Linked DNA regions of Homo sapiens. The protein of the gene in region 2 purifies or fractionates together with the protein of the main gene of each other region. This does not show direct contact. Each region holds a gene or a part of one and is shown on either strand. Other genes may lie near its edges.

The links. Proteins that work in one complex are often made in the same cells at the same time.
Region 1: the proteins of KRT23 (region 2) and EXPH5 purify together in Homo sapiens (affinity purification with mass spectrometry; one large-scale study listed by BioGRID and IntAct). This does not show direct contact.
Region 3: the proteins of KRT23 (region 2) and CEP250 purify together in Homo sapiens (affinity purification with mass spectrometry; one large-scale study listed by BioGRID and IntAct). This does not show direct contact.

Annotation. Positions count from the first base shown.
Region 1 is NC_000011.10:108,513,762-108,518,130, forward strand, and holds part of EXPH5 (exophilin-5), read right to left. Parts: intron 3,963-4,369; exon of another isoform or gene 3,598-3,962; intron 1,609-3,597; exon of another isoform or gene 1,550-1,608; intron 1,115-1,549; coding exon 1-1,114. UniProt on the Homo sapiens protein: May act as Rab effector protein and play a role in vesicle trafficking.
Region 2 is NC_000017.11:40,934,066-40,939,941, reverse strand, and holds the start of KRT23 (keratin, type I cytoskeletal 23), read left to right. Parts: upstream 1-2,295; 5' UTR 2,296-2,596; intron 2,597-2,671; exon of another isoform or gene 2,672-2,988; 5' UTR 2,989-3,338; coding exon 3,339-3,734; intron 3,735-5,876.
Region 3 is NC_000020.11:35,503,236-35,507,604, forward strand, and holds part of CEP250 (centrosome-associated protein CEP250), read left to right. Parts: coding exon 1-1,770; intron 1,771-4,369. UniProt on the Homo sapiens protein: Plays an important role in centrosome cohesion during interphase. Recruits CCDC102B to the proximal ends of centrioles. Maintains centrosome cohesion by forming intercentriolar linkages.

The DNA.
Region 1 (4,369 bases), on a different chromosome or scaffold from region 2:
ACATTTGGTGTGCCAAAATGAGGAGTCAACTGGGTCTCATTACCATGTGATACCACCATGCTATCCAGTGTGGATCTCTGAAAATCAAACTGCCAAGGATGTGGCTCTTCTTGGCCTCTGGAAACATCTGTTCCATAACCAGAAGAAAATGATTCCCAGTGTTCAGAAGAAACATTATGGCCATGAATGGCTGATACACTATTTGCTTCCATGGAAATCATTTCAAAGTCTCTGTCAGAAGAACTGAATGATTTCCTGCTTCGATGAAAGTCAGACCAGAAAGAATGTCCTTTCTCTTGGCCCCAAAAAGGACCTTGTCCAAATCTCCTCTGTTCTCCGCTTCGTCCAAAGGTATTGCTGAAGAAAGATCTGGTAAATGTGTTGCTTTGATGGTAGAATGGCATGTTCTCTGAGTTCTCAAAAGTGTCGGGACTCATTGCATTCTCCATGGGAGCATTTAAACTAACACGTTGGTAAACATTCTGTGAATGGTACGATTCATATCTCTTATTCTCCTGAAAACCCCTGGGATACACATACTTGTCAGCGGGATCAATTTCCATTGGTGATGGTGCCCTCAGGAACTCTTCCTGGTTCTCCCTGTCTCTAGAGGAATCTGATCTGTTCCATATGATGGATGATAAAGGAGTTCTCTTTGGACTCTGCTGGTGCCTTGGTGGTATAAACCCACTCTTGCTCTGAGTTGTGGCTGGAAAATGTAAGCTTCTTGCTGTGAAATGCCCTGTGGCTGGTAAGGCCGACCGTTGCCTGCTGTCAAAACACAGCGAAGTACTGCCAAAAGTATTCTTTTGCACATAATCTTCTTTAAAGACTCTGGGCTCCCTTGTCCTATACATATCATAAATTGTGCTTGTCCTAGGAGAAAAGGTTTTAAAACCTTCCCTAGGAGTTCCTGGTCTTAGGATGTCATAGATAGACATATTGGAAGTTTCATTATAGTGTTTTTTGTGCCTTTCTGTGATATTACCATGTCTGTTACCACTGGAATAAAAGTGACCGAACTGTGTTCTTGATCCATAGTTGAGGGGTGTTCTGGTATTCACTGAGCTTGCAGACTGTTCCTGAGCCAATTTGCTATCCAAGTCATCTAAAACTGAAAAGAGAATGTGAATCAACCTTTTTCTGTATGTTTTTACAGTTTAATAATAATTTGAGTTATTGAAGGCTCCTTTTCAAGAAACATAATCATTTATAATTTTATTTTTATCATATTATCATGTTATAACATTAATTTTGATTATATTTTTAAGATAGCCTGACTTTTATAAGACTATAGTGAAAATTTCTTTCCTACTTTTTCAAATCACTTTTTTTCAAAGTAAACCTTCCATTAACGCCGTAAGGAAATTGAACTATATTCTTCTAACAATGAATTTTAATCATGTTTTTTTTTAGTGCATCTAAAGTGTATTGAGTTTTTCTAAGATATGGACCAGTAATAAAATGGAATTAATAATGCAGACATTGAATAACTAGACAATTGTTAGTATTATTAAGCCTTGTCTTTCTGTTTCTTTCATGTCACTAGGTTGCTACAATAATTCCAGCTGTGTATACCTCCTGGGATCATAATAGAAATGAACCTCTGTAAGTAGCATATGATTTCTAGGTTGTACTGTTAAGAAAACAGTATTACCACTAAAAGCTTAGCACCTAATTTATGAACATACTTAGTTGGATATATAATATTATTAAATGATATGCCAATGGTAGATTTTTTTTTCTGGAAAAATTAATACCCATTAACACTCCTATAAAACAGCACTTTCTATGTGTCAGGCAGAGTCCTAAACGCTTAATATATTAACTCACTAAGTCGTCACACAAACTTAGAAGGTTGGTCCTATTACTATTCTCATTCTATAATGAGGAAACTGATGCAAGAAGAGATTAAGCAAATTCCTAAGATCACACAGCACTGGGATTTGAACCCAGACAGTCTGTTTCCTGAATCCATGCATACAACCACTGTACAATGCAACCTCTGTGCCATAAAAGCTCACTTTTGGGCCGGGCACGGTGGCTCATGCCTGTAATCCCAGCACTTTGGGAGGCCGAGGCGGGCGGATCACGAGGTCAGGAGATTGAGACCATCCTGGCTAACATGGTGAAACCCCGTCTCCACTAAAAATACAAAAAATTAGCCGGGCGTGGTGGCGGGCGCCTGTAGTCTCAGCTACTCGGGAGGCTGAGGCAGGAGAATGGCGTGAACCCGGGAGGCAGAGCTTGCAGTGAGCCAAGATGGCGCCACTGCACTCCAGCCTGGGCGAAAGAGCGAGACTCCGTCTCAAAAAAAAAAAAAAAAAACCAGAAAAAAAAACTCACTTTTCATATTTTGCTCTTTATGAACCATACAGATGATTTTACTGTGAGACGAGCTCATAGTTTTACAAAGACGTGAAGTTGCTGTTGTCAAATAATGATGACTTTTCTCTCGGTAGCAAAGTCAGGGAGTGGTGTCAAAGTCAGTGCCCAGGGGCCCCCTTACGATAACTGAAGACCTAGACCAAGCCCAGACCCAGGGCTCATGCTCTCTAGGACCACAGCCTCTGTGATCTTAGACAAGCCACAGCATCCTTTTGGTGACACAGTTGGCTTTTCTTTGAATTGTATCCATTTAATTGTACTTGACATGTTTTCCTCAATAAAAACCCATTAGATTTTGAATAGAATCATAATCTTTTGAGGTGTGTAGACTCTCTAAGACCCACTCTATAATAGATATAGTTTACTATATTCATGTTCAATAAATACAAATAAATTACAAATTTTATTTCAACTGTATAATGACAGGAAATGTAAGTGTCTGAGCACACATAAGTGAAATGTACATGCAACATGCCAATTAAGTTAGGGCAGATGCTAAAGGGATTTAAAAAAATCTGTTCTGGATTTTTCCCTATCCTATTTTATTTGCAAGTTGGTGTTATTAAGTTTGTACAACCAAAAGAAAAACTGATCTTGAACATTAAGGATATGTAATTAAGGAATTCTTTTAGGGAATTATCTGTGAATGTTTTAGTGAAAAATATTTATTTACCCCTAGGACCTGAAGTAATTTGTTCCCTATAGCCACAATAAAATAATCAAGCAATGCTGAAGTATAAGGTGGGGCAAAAAACAAAACAAAACAACTGCATAATGAATAAAAATCTATCTTTAAAACAAATTATAATGAAAATCTCTTTGATACCCATTCTCCCTTTCAAGCTGTTTATGTTTTTCTTTCCCCTTAAAGTCTTGGTTGACTACAAGAGCAGAATGTATTTAGAACAGAAAATACAGAAAAGTATAACAATATAAGTAAAATCGCCAGGAATTCTACCTAGAGGTAACCATTCTTAACATCCCCATGACAAGATTTTAAATTAAAGCCACTTAGAATCCCAGATTAACAATGCTGTTTACTCATCACTCCTGACATCAGAAAAATTCCTGTTCTGCTTCTCTACATTAGTTTCAGAAAGGCCACATTATTATTATTTTTTCATTATTTTTTCATTCCATAAACAGTAGCTCTCCTCTTTCAACAAAACCTTCATTTTGGAACAAAGATTTTCCTCTGTTCTCTGCCAGGAAGCATCTTACTGAAGAAGGCCCCTACGTTGACTGTCCAGCTGACTGTCTCTACCCGACTGCTGTCCCACACAATATGGGCCAGGCGATGGTATTGCCTTTGCAAACTAAATGAAGTTCCTCAAAGTGAAGCTGGTGGCGACTTCAGAGTTAACTTTTCAAATGGCCGGGCTTATATAGAATAACCTTTGTAAAAGTAAACTATGATCATATAATAAGATACATGTGCATTTGGAACGCCACTGCTTTTGGAACCTGTCTCAGTTTTTATCATCATACAAGGTTAATTGTCTAATGTCAATTAGATTTTATCACAGTGCATTTGGGTCCTAATCTGGAACAATAAAAGTCTATTAAACAGCAAACTTTGTAGATGTATTTCCTAAAGATGTATTTCCTTTTTACCTGAGGTTAATTTTTTTTTTCTGCTTGCTCTGTCACCCAGGCTGGAGTGCAGTGGCATGATCTCGGCTCATTGCAACCTCCGCCTCCCAGGTTCAAGCACTTCTCCTGCCTCAGCCTCCCAAGTAGCTGAGATTACAGGTGCGTGCCACCATGCCTAGCTAATTTTTGTATTTTCAGTAGAGATGGGGTCTCAAACTCCTGACCCCTAAGGTTAAATATTAAACATTATTACTACTCCATATATTTATCAGTCCATGATTCAAGAATATTTGCTTAGATTATATTTAATCATAAGATTCTTAATACTTGTGTTAATAACATATCAGCATCCTCTTCAAATAAGCTAAACATGAGGATGTAAAAAATA
Region 2 (5,876 bases):
TTCTTTTAAAATCCAATGGAACTCTACACATTAGAAGTTATGGAAAACCAGGGCCGGGTGCGGTGGCTCATGCCTATAATCCCAGCACTTTGGGAGGCCGAGGTGGGTGGATCACAAAGTCAGAAGTTCAAGATCTGCCTGGCCAACATGGTAAAACCCCGTCTCTACTAAAAACTACAAAGATTAGCCGGGCGTGGTGGCACGCACCTGTGGTCCCGGCTACTCGGGAGGCTGAGGCAGAAGAATCGCTTGAACCCGGGAGGTGGAGGTTGCAGTGAGCCACGATCACATCACTGCACTCCAGCCTGGGCGACAGGGCGAGACTCTGTCTCAAAAAAAAAAAAAAGAAGTTATGGAAAATTGGCTGGGCAGGGTGGCTCATGCCTGTAATCCCAGCACTTTGGGAGGCCAAGGCAGGCAGATCATGAGGTCAGGAGTTCAAGACCAGCCTGGCCAACATGGTGAAACCCCGTCTCTACTAAAAATACAAAAAATTAGCTGGGCATGGTGGTGCGCACCTGTAATCCTAGCTACTCGGGAGGCTGAGGCAGGAGAATCGCTTGAACCCAGGAGGCGGAGGTTGCAGTGAGTCAAGATTGCGCCATTGCACTCCAGCCTGGGTGACAGAGCAAAACTCCATCTTGAGAAAAAAAAAAAAAGAAGTTATGGGAAACCATCATATAACAGTACTAGAAGAGACTATTTCTCCCCAGTGCTCTCAGATCTCACCACCAGTTTTTCCTGGCCCTGGTCCTGCTATGACACAAGAAATCTTTTGCTCAAGGATAAGTCCTATAAATCAAAACTCCCACACATGGACATAAAATGAGACAGTGGCCAAATCTATGGGGTTGATAAGTCACTGCCACTCAGACATGCCTGAAATAATTAGAGAAGCATTAATTTCATTGTAGATTCTGGTGAGAGAATTTAGAAAAAGGCAGTGCAGCCCGGCCCTTGCACATGCTAAAGGTAAATGTTTTCTTCCTTGGTAAGTCTGGGTCCAGGCGAACAGGAACCAGAGCTGACCATAACTTTGATGACCAGGAACCGTCCACATCCACAGAACACTGGTTGCCACCACTCGCCAAACAAGTCTCTCTAGTTCCCTCATTTGCTCTATTTTTATCACTTGTCTCTTTTGTCTTTTTCTCATATCTGAGATGTAAGTGACTGTCGGCACTCTTTCTAAGCACTCTCCAAGCTTCCCTGAGGCTTGGAGGCTCATTTTTCCAGCTCGTGCACAGTGAAATAAAAAATATTCAGAGACTCTTCCCTGATAAGGTTTTGTTGTAAGACTGGGAGGAGCAGAGCTGGTGTGCTTTTGGGTGGCTTTATTTGTAATTGGAAAAGATTGGCCTTCATGGATGGTTAATCTATACCCAGGAGAGGCGTTTTCCTACTTTCTAGTTCTATAACTCACAGTCCTAAAAGGAGCAGAAGTTGATGGCATCAGGAGACCTGTGTTAAAATCCTGACTCTAAAAAGTTTATGATTGAGTCAACATACATTTGCAAAATACCACCAAGAAACCAGACTTTGGTGCTCAAAAATGGAAGACATAAACTCTGCTTTCAAGAAGCCTGCGGTCTCAGAAGGGTGTGGCAAATGCAGTATAATGGAGTGAAAGAACGGAGTGGACTTCATCCCAGGCACAGGAGGTGGCTGCGCCTGGCTAGGGGCTCCCAGCTTCCACCATGAGGTGGGATGCCAAGGTGTCTGCCCCTCTGGAGGACCTCGGCATCCAGAAGAGGCAGTTTCCTCCTAGAGGGTCACCCAACTCATGCAGGAGAATTCAGAAAATGATTGTTGAAGGAGGTAGCCCTTGAACTATAGAAGAGGTAGGGGTGAGTGACTTTCCAGGCAGGGAGGACAGCACAGACTCGGGCAGTGTCACCTATGAATTCATGTGCTCAATTACACTGTACATGCGAATCAGCTCTGGATCATTCATCCCTATGAGACCCTGATTCTTTGTCTGCAAAATGAAGACAACAACCCTTGCCTGGATACATAAAGAGTTGTGAGGATTCAATAAAGAATATAAAAGAGCTACACCAATTGGCAAGTCCTATTATTATGAAAGAGAAGTGTGGTACAGGACCTGTCAAGATTCAACCCAAGATAACAGTGCTATGTGGAGAAAGAATCTAGCCCTGGCTCTGCCACTAACCTCCCCACCACCATAGGCCTCAGCTTTCCTCATCTGTCCAATTAGTGGCTTGGAACCAGAAAGGCCAGAAGCCCTTCCTGCGCTGATATTTTATTTGTAAGTCCCCTTTAAATCCAACTGCCAGTAACTAGCACGTGGCTCCCGCCCCCAGACTGCTTCTTTATTCATTCCTAACCTTTACCTTGGCAGATGAAATATAAGATTCATCAACCACATTTGACAGCCCATGGCAGGTTTCCTGTTTTCCATCGTCCCTCTGCAGGTCACAGACACACAGAGCCCAGCCGTGGCAGGCTCAGCCGGGGTCCGGGGCTGCTAACAACGGCTACATTCCTCCCCCAGGGCCAAGGGAAATCCTGAGCGCAGGCCAGGGTTGTTTGGTTTTGAGGTGTGCTGGGATGAAAGGCACCCTGGAAGTGGAAGGTTCGGTCATTCATTAATTAATTACATCTATAATTGAGGGTTTGTTCTTAAGAGCGAGTCCTTTGAAAGTACTTTCCTTCAAACAGTGACTGCCACAAAGGCATCAGATATTCACCACCTTCTCGGCTGCCTCAGCACAGCAAGCTTTATTCTGGGACCTGAGATCCTGTTCTGAGCTGGCTTTCCCTTCTCCAGGCTCGCTCACCCTCCCTTTAGAGGTGGGGCTTATTGGGGGTGGAAAAAGGTGTGTGTATCTCTGTTGTTTAATGTCTGGTTTTTTGTTGCTGTTGTTGTTGTTTTGTTTTGGTTTTGGTTTTTGGTTTTTTTTAAGGAAATCTATACTACATCGAATATGCTTTCTTTTGGGTGGACTTTAACCTAACCCATTCCAGGTAAATGAACAATGGAAAAACTTCACGGCAAGATTAGAAAGATACCTGAGCCCAATACCCGCCTGATGTCGTGGGCCACACCTCCGGGTTACCAGGGGAAGGGAGGAAGCAAACTGTCATATTGATGTGGCTCTAAACAACAACAGTGTGCGAAGGCCCAGGGGCACTTTGGGATTGACCAAGAGGAAACACAAGTTGCACAATGATACAATCTTGTTGGTACAATTGTCAGAGAAGGGAACTCCCACAGCAAAGGCCATAAAACCATCCAGGGCAGTCTGGGGCGGCTCAGTTCTGCGGTGCCAGGGAGTGGAGCAGAGCTCAGCCCCGTCCCAAACACAGATGGGACCATGAACTCCGGACACAGCTTCAGCCAGACCCCCTCGGCCTCCTTCCATGGCGCCGGAGGTGGCTGGGGCCGGCCCAGGAGCTTCCCCAGGGCTCCCACCGTCCATGGCGGTGCGGGGGGAGCCCGCATCTCCCTGTCCTTCACCACGCGGAGCTGCCCACCCCCTGGAGGGTCTTGGGGTTCTGGAAGAAGCAGCCCCCTACTAGGCGGAAATGGGAAGGCCACCATGCAGAATCTCAACGACCGCCTGGCCTCCTACCTGGAGAAGGTTCGCGCCCTGGAGGAGGCCAACATGAAGCTGGAAAGCCGCATCCTGAAATGGCACCAGCAGAGAGATCCTGGCAGTAAGAAAGATTATTCCCAGTATGAGGAAAACATCACACACCTGCAGGAGCAGGTAAGATGCTGGGTGACCCTGGAGATCCAGATGGGGCTGCTTTGCCAGGGGACCCTCGGGAGGAAAAATGAGTCCAGAAGACAATTTCCAGGAAAATGGCATCAGCGCTTGAAGTAATTGTGCACAAAGGTTTTGGGGGATGTTTTCTTATTATATCTTAAATTTGGAGTGGGAAACGTCTGTTTTGTTTAATTAGTCTACTGTCCATGGATAATGTAGAAAAAGAAGGCAGCAAAAATGATAGAAGTGCTACAGACTGTTTCAAAAATGAGACTACTGATTTCTCACAGACCAAAAACATCTTTAAAATGTGAGGCAACCAGCTGCTGTTTAATGTCACTTATGACCCAACGATGTCATAGAAATGATAAGGGCTGGTGTTCATGCTGCATGCTCAGTGCACCAGGCATAAGAGAGTGTTTACTTTCTCATTACCTCAGTTCTGCTCCACCTCAAACTTTTTTGAACAATGTGGTTATCCATCGACAAAAGGCTGTTACACTATTTTGAAGATTATGCCTAAAAGTTGTCACCACACCAGCATATAGGTCATCATGACATCCCTAGATATTTCCGTTTGTGGGTTGCTTGCAGTAAAGTTGCTCACAGTTCTGACAATGGCATATTGCTAGAACCAATAATAATAAAATGAGCATAATTTTTAGAATCTGAGAGTTGAGATGGCTATAAAGACCTTGTTCAAAAAAAACCGAACTCTTTAACCAAACCTCAAAAAAGCTAAGCAAATACCTTCTGGGATGTCTCATAACATTAGCTAGAAGTAGAAGGAATCCAATCATCTCATAGGTTATGTTTTAAAGCTATCTAACTCCCCTCTTATATAAAGCAGTCCCAGAAAATTCCCTGTAAGACCATGATTTAACCTCCCCTAGAAAGGGTATCACAAGTTTCCAATATTTATATATATTATTTCACAATGCTCAGTCATCCTTGCTTGAATGTAGGAAGGACCAGTCAAGATAATATAAATCTGTCCTTGTAATGAACCCTAATTATTGAATAATCAACCTAATAACTGACTGTAATTACCTTAACTATATAGTGCATGGTTGTCTTTATGAAAAAAAAAAAAAAACAAGGTGACTCAACAGTCCTCATCATGTTTTTTTGTTTAATAAAGTTGCTTTGGTTGTAGAAAGGAGGAATTGAAGATTTTTGCAAATGGAGAGCAAAGGGAGACCATGACTCCCAAAAGAAATACAAGGTTAGAACCAGTCAAATAATTTATGAGCTCGCGGAAGAGATTTAAAAAAAAGAAAGGGAGGAAAGAGAGGGAAATGTTTACTGAGCACTTATTATGTACCTAGGCATCCTGCTGGATATTTAATACACATGTCAACACTATCCAAGAGTTTTCTGCAATGATGGAAATGTTCCATATTATTTTATTTGATTCTGCAAGAACCCTGTAAGGAAATGGAAGCTTGGAAAAAAGTGAAATAGCCATCCAAAGCCATCAGCAAGAAGCAGAGGTGGGATTCTAACTCAGGTCTGTTTCCAGTAGCCTCATAAATTTCACTACAGTGTAGTGCTGCCTAGCCCACCTCATATAAAAATGACACTTAGTATGAATAAAGATAATGCATTATACTTGCATCATTAACCACACATCACATACTTCATACACATTGTCTCATTTAATCCTCACAACTGTGTGGAGCAGGTATTTGTATTCTCAACTTACAGATAAGGAGACTGAGACCTAATCATTGTCTAAATCCTTTGGAACAGAATTGAGAAAAGTGAGTAGGTGCAATGGGGGGTGTGGGGAGCAACCTGCCCACCCTTCAGATGACCTGGAATTCTGGGTTCTGAGATTGAATAGGAAACTTCTTTGGCTTTGAATTTCACTCTTTTCTGGATTTTTACCTCTAACATTGTGTTTTCTCTACACTTGAAGAAAGAAACTCTTTAAAGTTGAGGTTGTCTATCTACCCCAACCTCCCTCATTTGAAGATGAGAAAACAGAGGTGCAAGGAGGTCCCACAATTACCTGGGGCTTATCCTTCCTGGACCTTGGTGAAATGCTCTGAGTGGATACAGTTCTCCCGTACCCTCACTTTAGGTATATTAAATATCACTCAAAAGGTTGATAACAAGTTGAGCTTAAAAATTAATTCA
Region 3 (4,369 bases), on a different chromosome or scaffold from region 2:
AGAGAGCTGCAGGAGAGGGACCAGGAGGTGAAGTCTCAGCGAGAACAGATCGAGGAGCTGCAGAGGCAGAAAGAGCATCTGACTCAGGATCTCGAGAGGAGAGACCAGGAGCTGATGCTGCAGAAGGAGAGGATTCAGGTTCTCGAGGATCAGAGGACCCGGCAGACCAAGATCCTGGAGGAGGACCTGGAACAGATCAAGCTGTCCTTGAGAGAGCGAGGCCGGGAGCTGACCACTCAGAGGCAGCTGATGCAGGAACGGGCAGAGGAAGGGAAGGGCCCAAGTAAAGCACAGCGCGGGAGCCTAGAGCACATGAAGCTGATCCTGCGTGATAAGGAGAAGGAGGTGGAATGTCAGCAGGAGCATATCCATGAACTCCAGGAGCTCAAAGACCAGCTGGAGCAGCAGCTCCAGGGCCTGCACAGGAAGGTAGGTGAGACCAGCCTCCTCCTGTCCCAGCGAGAGCAGGAAATAGTGGTCCTGCAGCAGCAACTGCAGGAAGCCAGGGAACAAGGGGAGCTGAAGGAGCAGTCACTTCAGAGTCAACTGGATGAGGCCCAGAGAGCCCTAGCCCAGAGGGACCAGGAACTGGAGGCTCTGCAGCAAGAACAGCAGCAGGCCCAGGGACAGGAGGAGAGGGTGAAGGAAAAGGCAGACGCCCTCCAGGGAGCTCTGGAGCAAGCCCATATGACACTGAAGGAGCGTCATGGAGAGCTTCAGGACCACAAGGAACAGGCACGAAGGCTGGAGGAAGAGCTGGCAGTGGAGGGACGGCGGGTCCAGGCCCTGGAGGAGGTGCTGGGAGACCTAAGGGCTGAGTCTCGGGAACAGGAGAAAGCTCTGTTGGCCCTCCAGCAGCAGTGTGCTGAGCAGGCACAGGAGCATGAGGTGGAGACCAGGGCCCTGCAGGACAGCTGGCTGCAGGCCCAGGCAGTGCTCAAGGAACGGGACCAGGAGCTGGAAGCTCTGCGGGCAGAAAGTCAGTCCTCCCGGCATCAGGAGGAGGCTGCCCGGGCCCGGGCTGAGGCTCTGCAGGAGGCCCTTGGCAAGGCTCATGCTGCCCTGCAGGGGAAAGAGCAGCATCTCCTCGAGCAGGCAGAATTGAGCCGCAGTCTGGAGGCCAGCACTGCAACCCTGCAAGCCTCCCTGGATGCCTGCCAGGCACACAGTCGGCAGCTGGAGGAGGCTCTGAGGATACAAGAAGGTGAGATCCAGGACCAGGATCTCCGATACCAGGAGGATGTGCAGCAGCTGCAGCAGGCACTTGCCCAGAGGGATGAAGAGCTGAGACATCAGCAGGAACGGGAGCAGCTGCTGGAGAAGTCTCTGGCCCAGAGGGTCCAAGAGAATATGATCCAAGAGAAGCAGAATCTGGGGCAAGAGAGAGAAGAGGAGGAGATAAGGGGCCTTCATCAGAGTGTAAGGGAGCTACAGCTGACTCTAGCCCAAAAGGAACAGGAGATTCTGGAGCTGAGGGAGACCCAGCAAAGGAACAACCTGGAAGCCTTACCCCACAGCCACAAAACCTCCCCAATGGAGGAACAATCTCTAAAACTTGATTCTTTAGAGCCCAGGCTGCAGCGGGAGCTGGAGCGGCTACAGGCAGCCCTGAGACAGACAGAAGCCAGGGAGATTGAGTGGAGGGAGAAGGCCCAGGACTTGGCACTCTCCCTAGCGCAGACCAAGGCCAGTGTCAGCAGTCTGCAGGAGGTAGCCATGTTCCTACAAGCCTCTGTCCTGGAGCGGGACTCAGAACAGCAAAGGCTGCAGGTAAGTCACTCCATGGGGAGTAAGGGCCAGGGGACACACCCCTGTCTGGCTGAGCTCAGGGACTGCCCACCACCCTGGGCCCTGTGGCACCTCAGGGGTATGAGAAAGCTGAGATCATGAGCACCTCAACATCGGTGGGATTCAGGCTACTGTGCTAGTCGGGAGATACAGAGAGGATAAGAACCCCACAGTCCCTGCCCTCACAGAGTTCACAGTCTAGTGGGTAAACAACGATAATGCAGTGTGGTTGGTGCCTAATGGGGGAAGTTTAGTATGCCCCAGGCATGCTGGAGGGATGCCCACCCTTTCCTGGGAGTGGGTCCTGAAAGGCTTTCTGGTAAAAGTGGTGTTTAAGATTAGACCTGGGCCAGGCACGGTGGCTCACGCCGGTAATCCCAGCACTTTGGGAAGCCGAGGCGGGCAGATCACTTGAGGTCAGGAGTTCGAGACCAGTCTGGCCAACATGGTGAAACCCCGTCTCTACTAAAAATACAAAAATTAGCCAGGTATGCTGGCATGTGCCTGTGATCCCAGCTACTTGGGAGTCTGAGGCAGGAGAATTGCTTGAACTCAGGAGGCGGAGGTTGCAGTGAGCCGAGATCGCACCATTGCACTCGAGCCTGGGCAAAGAAACGAGACTCCATCTCAAAAAAAAAAAAAAAAAAATAGACGTGAAGGGACCAGTAAGGAACTAGCCAAGCACAGGTTGAGGAGGAGCATTCACGGGAAGAGGAAAAGAGGGCGAGAACAAGTGTAGTATCTGTGTAGATGGTTCAGGTTGCATGGGACAGAGGGAGGATTTGGGAAGAGACCGGAAGACAGCAGGGGCCACACCTGTCAGGGCTTACAAGTCATGCTGAGGACCTGGGTGGTGGGAAGCAGATGAAGTTTTTGCAGCAGGGGAGTGATGTGATCAGACATACAGCTCACAAAGATTGCTCAGGCTGCCGTGTGGAGCAACAGCATGTCTGGAGAGACCCACTGGGAGGCTGTACTGGGAAGTCCAGGGGAGAGCTTGTGCCCTAAGATGGAAAGTGTGAATGGAGACATGTGGGTGGGTCTGAGAGGTAGGACTTGATTGGCTAAGAGGTGGGAGGAATAAAGAGAGGGCAGAAAGAAGTCAAAGATGACACTCAGGTTCCTGTTCATGAAGATGAAGAGAAGCAGGTGTGAGAAAGAGGAGTGGAATGAATGATGAGGTCAGTTTGGAAATGGAGGGAGGAGCCTGTTGGCAGGTCAGTAAAATGATCTGAAGCTGAAGGATGGAGTTGAAGCCAGAGACACTTTGGAGTCATCAGCAGTTAGAACAAATGGGTTTCTTGTAGGCAGAATGTTGAGTGAGAGAGGAAGTGGGCTTAGGAGAGGACTTCAGGGTGTATTATTTAACCTCAAGGTCAAGCACCGTGTCTTAGTCACCTTTGTACCCCCGGTACTGAGCACAAGACCTGCAGAGAGCAGGCAAACAGGAAAGCCAAGTTGGCTCAAGAGAGAGAGGCATCATCTCTTTTTCCAAAAGACGCCCAGTCCAATTTTCCAGGGAAATAGACTCTACATCCTGGTCCCTTGACTGGGCCCCAGAGAACCCCAGACACACAGTCCCCCAGAGAGTTCATTCTGGGAACTCACAAAGCTCTGCTCTTGGTGAAGGGCAATATGAGGAGAAGGAGGTCCATCTGTGAACTCCAAAGTTCACAGGGTTTGAAATACAGTAGTGCGGCTTATCAGCTGTGTAACCCCGGGTGAATGCCTTCACTCTGATCTTCAATTTCTCATCAGTAATATAGGCATTGGTGGTATGACATGGCATGATATGTATGAATTGCTTAGGAAGAAAGCACTAAGTGGACCTCCTTTCCTATGTTCAGGCCCATTCTTACAGGCACAGCAAAAGTAAGTTATGTAATTGGGCAGGAGGGCACTTCCCACCCATACTCTTGGGTTACTGAGCAGTATTCACTCAATAACATAACTCTGGTCAGAGTCACTTCACCCACTGCCACCTCCAAACACACAGGGTGAGACTCTTGTCTCAAAAAAACAAACTCATAAATGGCAGGACTGGAATGAGGTCTGAGTCATCTGCCTCTAGAGCGCAGGCTTTCTGTCACCAAGCTCTTCCTCTCTCCCAGGCAACCCACATCCACCTGCGTACACTTGTTTTCTCTTGTTCATCTCTTCTTGACTGTTATCATTTATGAACCACAGGGCACCTAGAAAGTATCTAGCATGAGGCTTCCCCATTTATCCAAAGGGACTTAACCTAAGGACTTGATCCATGTTTCATGGTGCATGTAGTCGTTTTATAAATGAGGAAATTGGGGTTTGGGGAGAGCTTGTGCTTTGACCAGAGTCATATAGCCACTGAGTGGCTATATGGGCCACTGGGTACGCCACAGGGCACCCAGCCCTGTGTGACTCGAGAGTCCATGCTGTTCCCACAGCACATCAGTGCTCTGAGTCATTGCTCAGCCTTCTAGGAGATGTGAAGTGAGCTGGGGGCTCTGATCCTAGCTTCCTTGCTAGCTCACCGCATATCCTTGAGAAGAGCCCCTCTGCTCCTTTGTTTTACCTATCTGTAAAATGAAGGTTCTGTACTAGA